Linked DNA regions of Homo sapiens. The protein of the gene in region 2 interacts with the protein of the main gene of each other region in a biochemical or structural test. Each region holds a gene or a part of one and is shown on either strand. Other genes may lie near its edges.

The links.
Region 1: of the proteins of SIRT2 (region 2) and PHGDH, one has a biochemical effect on the other in vitro, tested with the Homo sapiens proteins (one large-scale study listed by BioGRID).

Annotation. Positions count from the first base shown.
Region 1 is NC_000001.11:119,710,342-119,714,254, reverse strand, and holds the start of PHGDH (D-3-phosphoglycerate dehydrogenase), read right to left. Parts: upstream 2,322-3,913; 5' UTR 2,233-2,321; coding exon 2,095-2,232; intron 1,525-2,094; exon of another isoform or gene 1,457-1,524; coding exon of another isoform or gene 1,397-1,456; intron 1,344-1,396; exon of another isoform or gene 795-1,343; intron 1-794. UniProt on the Homo sapiens protein: Catalyzes the reversible oxidation of 3-phospho-D-glycerate to 3-phosphonooxypyruvate, the first step of the phosphorylated L-serine biosynthesis pathway.
Region 2 is NC_000019.10:38,882,527-38,886,339, reverse strand, and holds part of SIRT2 (NAD-dependent protein deacetylase sirtuin-2), read left to right. Parts: intron 1-2,583; coding exon 2,584-2,713; intron 2,714-3,813. UniProt on the Homo sapiens protein: NAD-dependent protein deacetylase, which deacetylates internal lysines on histone and alpha-tubulin as well as many other proteins such as key transcription factors.

The DNA.
Region 1 (3,913 bases), on a different chromosome or scaffold from region 2:
GCTTCCTTCAGCATTAAAGAGACTTCAGTGGGGGAGGGCAGGAGACACTATGCCAGACACCTCTTCATGCAGAATAAAAAGGCATAGTGTAGAAATGAGGACCCTTCAGTGGGCTGACCAAGGAGATTAATTGGCATTCTGAACCAAATGTGTTGCAAAGACAGACAAGAAAGCTGAGCCCTCCCAAACAGTCCAAAAATGCCCAGCAGTCAAGTTAGCCAACAAACACTCCTCCTCTCCTGCCAAGAGTTTTCAGCGCCTTTAAAATGTTCTCCAAGTTTCAGCACCAGACTCCCAGCATCCACCCAGCTGATTCCTGACTTCATGGAACAACCCCTCATTATGGATGAGGCCTCCCATTCCTCTCAATTCTGCCCTCATCCCTCCCTATCCCCACCCCCTCACTGGGGTATCAGGTTTCTAATTTCCTTTAGAGAGGTGAAAGCACTTGATTGCCACCCTCTTCCCAACCTGGTGCTCTGGTGGAGGTGAGAGTCAGAGGCTGTTCTGCAGGACACCCCACTGCCTTTCCTGGTTGTTCCCCAGAGCCACTGATACAATTTCACACAAGAAAGGAGGTGACAGATGTGAGGAGCCTGCCACCCGTCCAATCCTACTCAAGTCCTAAGCCCTTGCCCACCAATTCTGTGCATGATGATTGGACCTTTCTCTGGCTTTTCCAGAAGGGGAACACGCAAAGGTTAGGGAGCTGGATGGTCTAATTCGGGGCTATGCTCTTGTGTCATCTGCTCAACTGTCTCCTGCGTATTAGCCATGCTCCCTAACCAGCTTACAAACTTCTTGAAGGCAGGGACCAAATTCTTCTGAGTACAGGGCAGAGCTGGATACTTGGATATAGTGTCATGCCATGGTGACAAGATCCACGCCAGCAGATACAAAGGCAGACAAAGTGAGCGAGGCAGTTTCCAGGACCACGTGGTTGTGGCACAACTAAAGCAACAACAGCAGCCTCTGCGGTCTAAGGGGTCCTCGGAGGAGGAGACGGCTGAAGGTGGTGGACAGGGCTGAGGCGGGCAGAAGGCGGTTGTGCGATTTGGAGGGTGGGGGAGAATATACTGGATCAGGTGAGGTAGAGACTGGGCAGCTGGGTCGACTACAGAGGTCGAAAGTGCAGGCACTGGAGTGAAGAGTTCACAAAATAAATATTCCGGACAAGGCCACCAGGCCCAGCAGGCCTTTTCAAACACGGTGGATAAAGATTTGAAGTAGATTAATTATATATCACAACAAAAGGAGATAAAAATTTGCTAAGACTATAAATCATCTGGGAGCGTTTGGGATCGGATTCTAGTCGAGTCTGGTCACTCCCAACCAGCGATAAACCAAAGGTGGGGAGGAGGCTAAATCTGGACCCCAGCGCTCCCCGCCCGCCTCCCTTTCCTCCGAAGGCTCCCAGGAGGCAGAGGGGCGGCGAAAGCACGGAGCAGTCTTGCATCAGACGAGGGGCGGGTACGTGTTTGCTGCCTTACGAGGGCTGCCTTCCCCTCCAGCTGCCCCAGCAGCCACCAGACTGGTTGGGTCTCCGCCAGCTTCCCCCCGCCCCCCGACCCCCCCAACCCCGCCACCGCCAAGGCAGGCTAGAATCGGCGGGGCGGCCCAGAACTTGGTTGGGAAGAATCGCCAGTCCCTGGGTTCCCCGCAAAGAAGCCACTTTGGGGCCCCTCTCCCGATCGCCCCGCGCGGAGGCGGTTGGGGGTTGGGGGAGAGGCGGCGCGAGGCTGCCAGAACAATTGCGCGCTAAGGCGCTGGGGCGCCGCGCTGGCATCCCGCGCTGGCATCCGCGAGCAGCCTGCAGGACCAGTTGGAGCAGCCCGCACTTTGCAATGCTAGCGGAGGCATGCCAACGTGAAAGACGCGGTTGCAAACTAAAAGAAAAGTTTGCATCTCGCCGCCGTTTGTTCTTCCCTCTTTCTGCCTCCTCCCGCCCCCGTTCTTCTCTACCCCCCAATCTCAGGAGGCCCCGGAACTAATTGATACGGGGTGCATGCGAGGGGGGCGCGCTGGCCTGGGCGCAGCCAGCCTTTTTCCATGGAGGTTGCCCTAGAGACCTCAATTTTCTCTCTCTCGCCTTACCTGCAGCTCCGCTATCAGCTCCTCTTTGCTAAGGTTCTGCTTTTCCACCACCTGCAGCCCTCCATCTTGCAAGATCTTCCGGCAGCAAGGGTCCAGGCTGTCACTGATGAGCACTTTCCGCAGATTTGCAAAAGCCATTGCTGGAGTTGGCCTCGGAATCGGCCGCTGTGAGTAGAAGTACCTAAGCCAAGAAGCTGCGGTTCGGCCTGGCGCGCTAGAGTAACTGGGCAGTATTCTCCAGCTCCCGCTCCCCAGTCATCTCCTCCTCCTCCTCCTCTTACAGTCTCCTTTTGATTGGACGGAAATACTCAAACTCTCCGCGACTCCGCCTCCTCCTCGCGGCTCTGAGGTTGCCAAATCCCTGCCCGCTTTATTATCCTCCCGCGATGAATTTCTCCATCTCAGCCAAAGCTCTTACCTACACCTGGTGAGCATATAAAAAGCACAATTTACGCTGACTAGCTGATGCATATCTGAAATGAACGGAGAAATACACCTCATCCTGAGAGAAAAACTTCATTTTCACTTTTCCTCCTAAGGATTCATTTATTAATTCCTTACGAAATTTTTTTTGAGTGGGTAAATGTGCAAGGCACTGTGCTAGACGTTGAAGGGAATTCGACTATCAAAAAGAAAATGTCCAACAATGATAGACTGGATTAAGAAAATATGGCACATATACACCATGGAATACTATGCAGCCATAAAAAATGATGAGTTCATGTCCTTTGTAGGGACATGGATGAAATTGGAAATCATCATTCTCAGTAAACTATCGCAAGAACAAAAAACCAAACACCGCATATTCTCACTCATAGGTGGGAATTGAACAATGAGAACACATGGACACAGGAAGGGGAACATCACACTCTGGGGACTGTTGTGGGGTGGGGGGAGGGGGGGAGGGATAGCATTAGGAGATATACCTAATGCTAAATGACGAGTTAATGGGTGCAGCACACCAGCATGGCACATGTATACATATGTAACTAACCTGCGCATTGTGCACATGTACCCTAAAACTTAAAGTATAAAAAAAAAAAAGATACATCCTCTTTCCTCTGGTGGCCTAACATCCTAGAGTACCAAACACACAGACTTGGAAAGTTACGTAGTGAAAAGCAATAGGAAGCTTTCTGAGACACCAAGGAGCTGTGATTAATTTCAAATTAGTGATGCAATGAGAATTATGAGTTTATAAAAGAGCGGGGACCTGGTGCATTTAAACTAGGCATACTTTGTTAAAGTTATTTATTTCCTTTCCCTCCACTTCCTCTCTAATTATGAAAAAGAAGAAAAGGAAAACGGGATGTCAGTGTGGTTTAATTGACCAAGGAGGCACTTCTCAGCTCTTAACTCTTTTATATTTAAACCCCATAACCGACGTGCTCTCTCATGCCCCATTTTACAGAAATGTCAGAAAATTCAATTTGGGATTAAAGTCACCTAGAATCAGAAGCAGAATCAGAGATGCTCATAGTTGAATTAGAATTCAGCTTTATGGACATATCCAGTCCAACTAACCATTGTGTGTTATGTCATCCTGAGCTATTCATAACTCAAGTGCTAGATCCTTATCCTACAGAACTATGCAATATCAATTCTATAAAGTAATGAAAATTCTATACAGATAATTCCTGGGCACAAATCAGATTTTTAGACACAATGTCCTCAGTGGGTAAAAAAAAAAATTGTCTATCATGTTTGCTTGTTCGGATGAATTGTTATTCCTACATTCCAAGACTCATGAGTATTCAAATTCTCTGTCTCTCTTGAAGTGCCCAGCAGTACCCTGGAGTCTAGGGACAGACAGGGGACC
Region 2 (3,813 bases):
GAGTCAGTGGGTAGACTGAGTCAAGTACCAAAGGCAAAACCAAGATTTAGAATAGTGGGCAAGGGAGGAAAGTTACAGGGCGTGTGGGAACAGTGACAGTGACTCTTGTCTGTAGGCTTTGGAGATAAGGTGGTTGCTGGTAGGGAGCCCAGAAGGCAGTTAGAGCATTCTTTCTGCCCTTGAAGGGAAACAAACCCTTCCCGTTGTTTCTGGAGTCCCTGGGAAACGCTGTCAGTTTGGCCCTGGGCCACACATGCGAGCCATCTCTGCGTAACCTCTGCCAGTGTCCTCTGTCAGCACCTGTTTTAGCGGCATTCCTCACAGGCAAACAACAGCTGCTCCAAAGGGGGTGGTTGTTTTAAGAAAAATGAGCGCGCACAAATGTCTGTGCAGAAAAGAACATTCCCACCTGTTTAATATGGAAAGTCTCACTGTCTTAAAAGAAAACAGTGGCCGGGCGCAGTGGCTCACACCTGTAATCCCAGCACTTTGGGAGGCTGAGGTGGGCAGATCACGAGGTCAGGAGATCGAGACCATCCTGACCAACATGGTGAAACCCCGTCTCTACTAAAAATACAAAAATTAGCTAGGCATGGTGGCGCGTGCCTGTGTTCCCAGCTACCTGGAAGGCTGAGGCAGGAGAATCACTTGAACCTGGGAGGCGGAGCTTGCAGTGAGCCAAGATTGCGCCACTGCACTCCAGCCTGGCAACAGAGCAAGACTCCGTCTCAAAAAAAAAAAAAAAAATAGCCACGCATGGTGGCGGGTGCCTGTAATCTCAGCTACTTGAGAGGCGGAGGCAGGGAGAATTGCTTGAACTCAGGAGGCAGTGGTTGCAGTGAGCCGAGATAGCGCCATTGTACTCCAGCCTGGGCAACAAGAGTGAAACTCCATCTGAAAAAAAAAAAAAAGAAAAGAAAAGAAAAGAAAACAGTGGCTGGGCATGGTGTCTCACGCCTGTAATCCCAACGCTTTGGGAGGCTGAAGTGGGAGGATCACTTGAGCCCAGGAGTTCAAGACCAGCCCGGGCAAATAGGGAGACCACCCCACCCCCCATCTCTACAAAAATAATTAAAAAGATAAAAAATTAGCCGGGCATGGTGGCATTTGCCTGTAGTCCCAGCTACTCAGTGGGCTGAGGTGGGAGGATGGCTTGAGCCCAGGAGGTGAAGGCTACAGTGAGCTGTGATCAGACCACTACACTCCAGCCTGAGTGACAGAGCAAGACCCTGCCTCCAAAAAAAGAAAAGAACACAGGTGAATATGCCATCTATGAAACAGGCCATAGTAAGAAAGGACCCTGGCTACTAAAGGGGAAGATAGTGATTAAAGCCAAGGAAGGGCCAGGCATGATGACTCACACTGTAATCCCAGCACATTGGGAGGCTGAGGCAGAAGGCTCGCTGACCAGCCTGGGCAACATAGTGAGACCCCATCTCTACAGAAAATTTTAAAAATCAGCCAGATGTGGAGGCTGAGGTGGGAGGATTGCTTGAGCCCAGGAGTTGGAGGCTGCAGTGAGCTATGATTGTACCACTGCACTATAGCCTGGGCGACAGAGTGAGACCTTGTCTCAAATACATAAAAAAACATGGCTAGGCACAGTGGCTCATGTCTATAATCCCAGCACTTTGGGAGGCCGAGGCAAGCAAATCACGAGGTCCAGAGTTCGAGACCAGCCTAGCCAACATGGTGAAACCCCATCTCTACTAAAAATACAAAAATTAGCCAGTCATGGTGGTGCGTGCCTGTAATCCCAGCTACTTGGGAGACTGAGGCAGGAAAATCTCTTGAACCTGGGAGTCAGAGGTTGCAGTGAGCCGAGATTGTGCCACTGCACTCCAGCCTGGGTGACAGAGCAAGACTCCATCTCAAAAAACAAACAAACAAACAAACAAACAAACCACACCTAGTAAGCCCTCCTGATTCATTTATGTTAATGCTTGCCTAGAGCTGCCACATGCAGCTGTGCAGGGTGCGCACTGCACAAGGATGCCACATCTGAGGGGGCTCCATTAATAACAGAGACATTGTAAATGTATGTTAATTTCAGCAATTAATGACAGGTGGAAATAAAGCATCTGGCTCTAATAAAACAACATTTTTTTTCTGAAAAATGAAAGCAAATGGCCTGAATTTGCAGAATAAAAGCCACACAGGCTGTGGAGTGGCTGTGGGCCTGGCCTCATAGATATTTAGGTTTGGGCCCCTTTTTTTTTTTTTTTTTTTTTAATTTTTTGTAGAGACAAGCGTCTTGATATGTTGCTCAGGCAGGTCTTGAACTCCTGGCCTCAAGTGATCCTCCCACCTCAGCCTCCCAAAGTGCTGGGATTATAGGCGTGAGCCGCCATGCCCAGCCTGGCCCCTGCCTTTAAGCAGCCTTGACTGTCACCCTTTAAGTGGCACCATTGGGATGAACAGAAGAGTCTTCAGATAAACCCTGCCACTTGCTTCTCCTCCCTCCCTTCTCCACCTGTCCCCACCACCTCACTGCTCCTCGTGGCCCTCAACTCCCTACTGTGCCTTCTGGCCTACAAGGGGTGGCTCACTCCTCACCCCTCTTCCCTCCATCTCTCCCTCTAGAACATAGATACCCTGGAGCGAATAGCCGGGCTGGAACAGGAGGACTTGGTGGAGGCGCACGGCACCTTCTACACATCACACTGCGTCAGCGCCAGCTGCCGGCACGAATACCCGCTAAGCTGGATGAAAGGTGAGGCTGGAGGGCATCCTGAGGGCAGGCCTCCTCTCAGCACCAGGAGCAGTGTCTCCATGCAGTGGGCACCCATTCTGTCCTGCTCAATTCTTTGGGGTTTTTTTGTTTTGTTTGTTTGTTTTTGAGACAGAGTCTCACTCTGTCGCCCACGCGGGGAGTTCAGTGGGTGATCATGGCTCACTGCAGCCCAACTGCCTGATTTCCTGTCTTTGGCTGTTTTTAATATATGATAGTAGGCCAGGAGCAGTGGCTCACACCTGTAATCCTAGCACTTTGGGAGGCCAAGGCGGGCAGATCACCTGAGGTCAGGAGTTCAAGACCAGCCTGGCTAACATGGTGAAACCCCGTTTCTACTAGAAATACAAAAAAAAAAAAATTAGCCTGGTGTGGTGGCATGCGCCTGTAATCCCAGCTACTCAGGAGGCTGAGGCAGGAGAATCGCTTGAACCTGGGAGGCGGAGGCTGCAGTGAGCTGAGTTCGCACCATTGCACTCCAGCTTGGGCAACAAGAGCAAAACTCTGTCTCAAAAAAAAAAAAAAAAAAAAAACAAGAAGTCACTTATTCCACTCATGGAAAGCCATTTCTGACATTCTTTATGCTGATTTAACAAAGCCTCTGGTGTCCCTGTGAGATAAGGACAGCTGCAGCATTTGCAGAAGGGCCTCTGGAGTGTGGCTGTTCTGATAAAATGCCAGCTGAGTGCCCCTGGGCTGAGGATTCCTGAATAGCCCAACTGCAAGCAGCTGGGGGCAGTGTACAATTCACATTACCCCCATTATGTGTCATTGACAGCAGCGTCACAGGCAGCACCCACGGTGTCATGCTGTCCATGCAGAAATATTTTAAAGAAAATTACCGACTACTGACATTGAAACAATGCTTTATAAATGTGTGCTGAATGAATGAATGGACAGTTGAGCAAATGACTTAGAATTCAGTGGGTTGCAAGTGACAGAAATGCTTTCTTTCTTTCTTTTTTTTTTTTTTGAGATGGAGTCTTGCTCTGTCACCCAGGCTGGAGTGCAGTGGTGCAATCTCGGCTCACTGCAACCTCCGCCTCCCGGGTTCAAGCAATTCTCCCTGCCTCGGCCTCCCA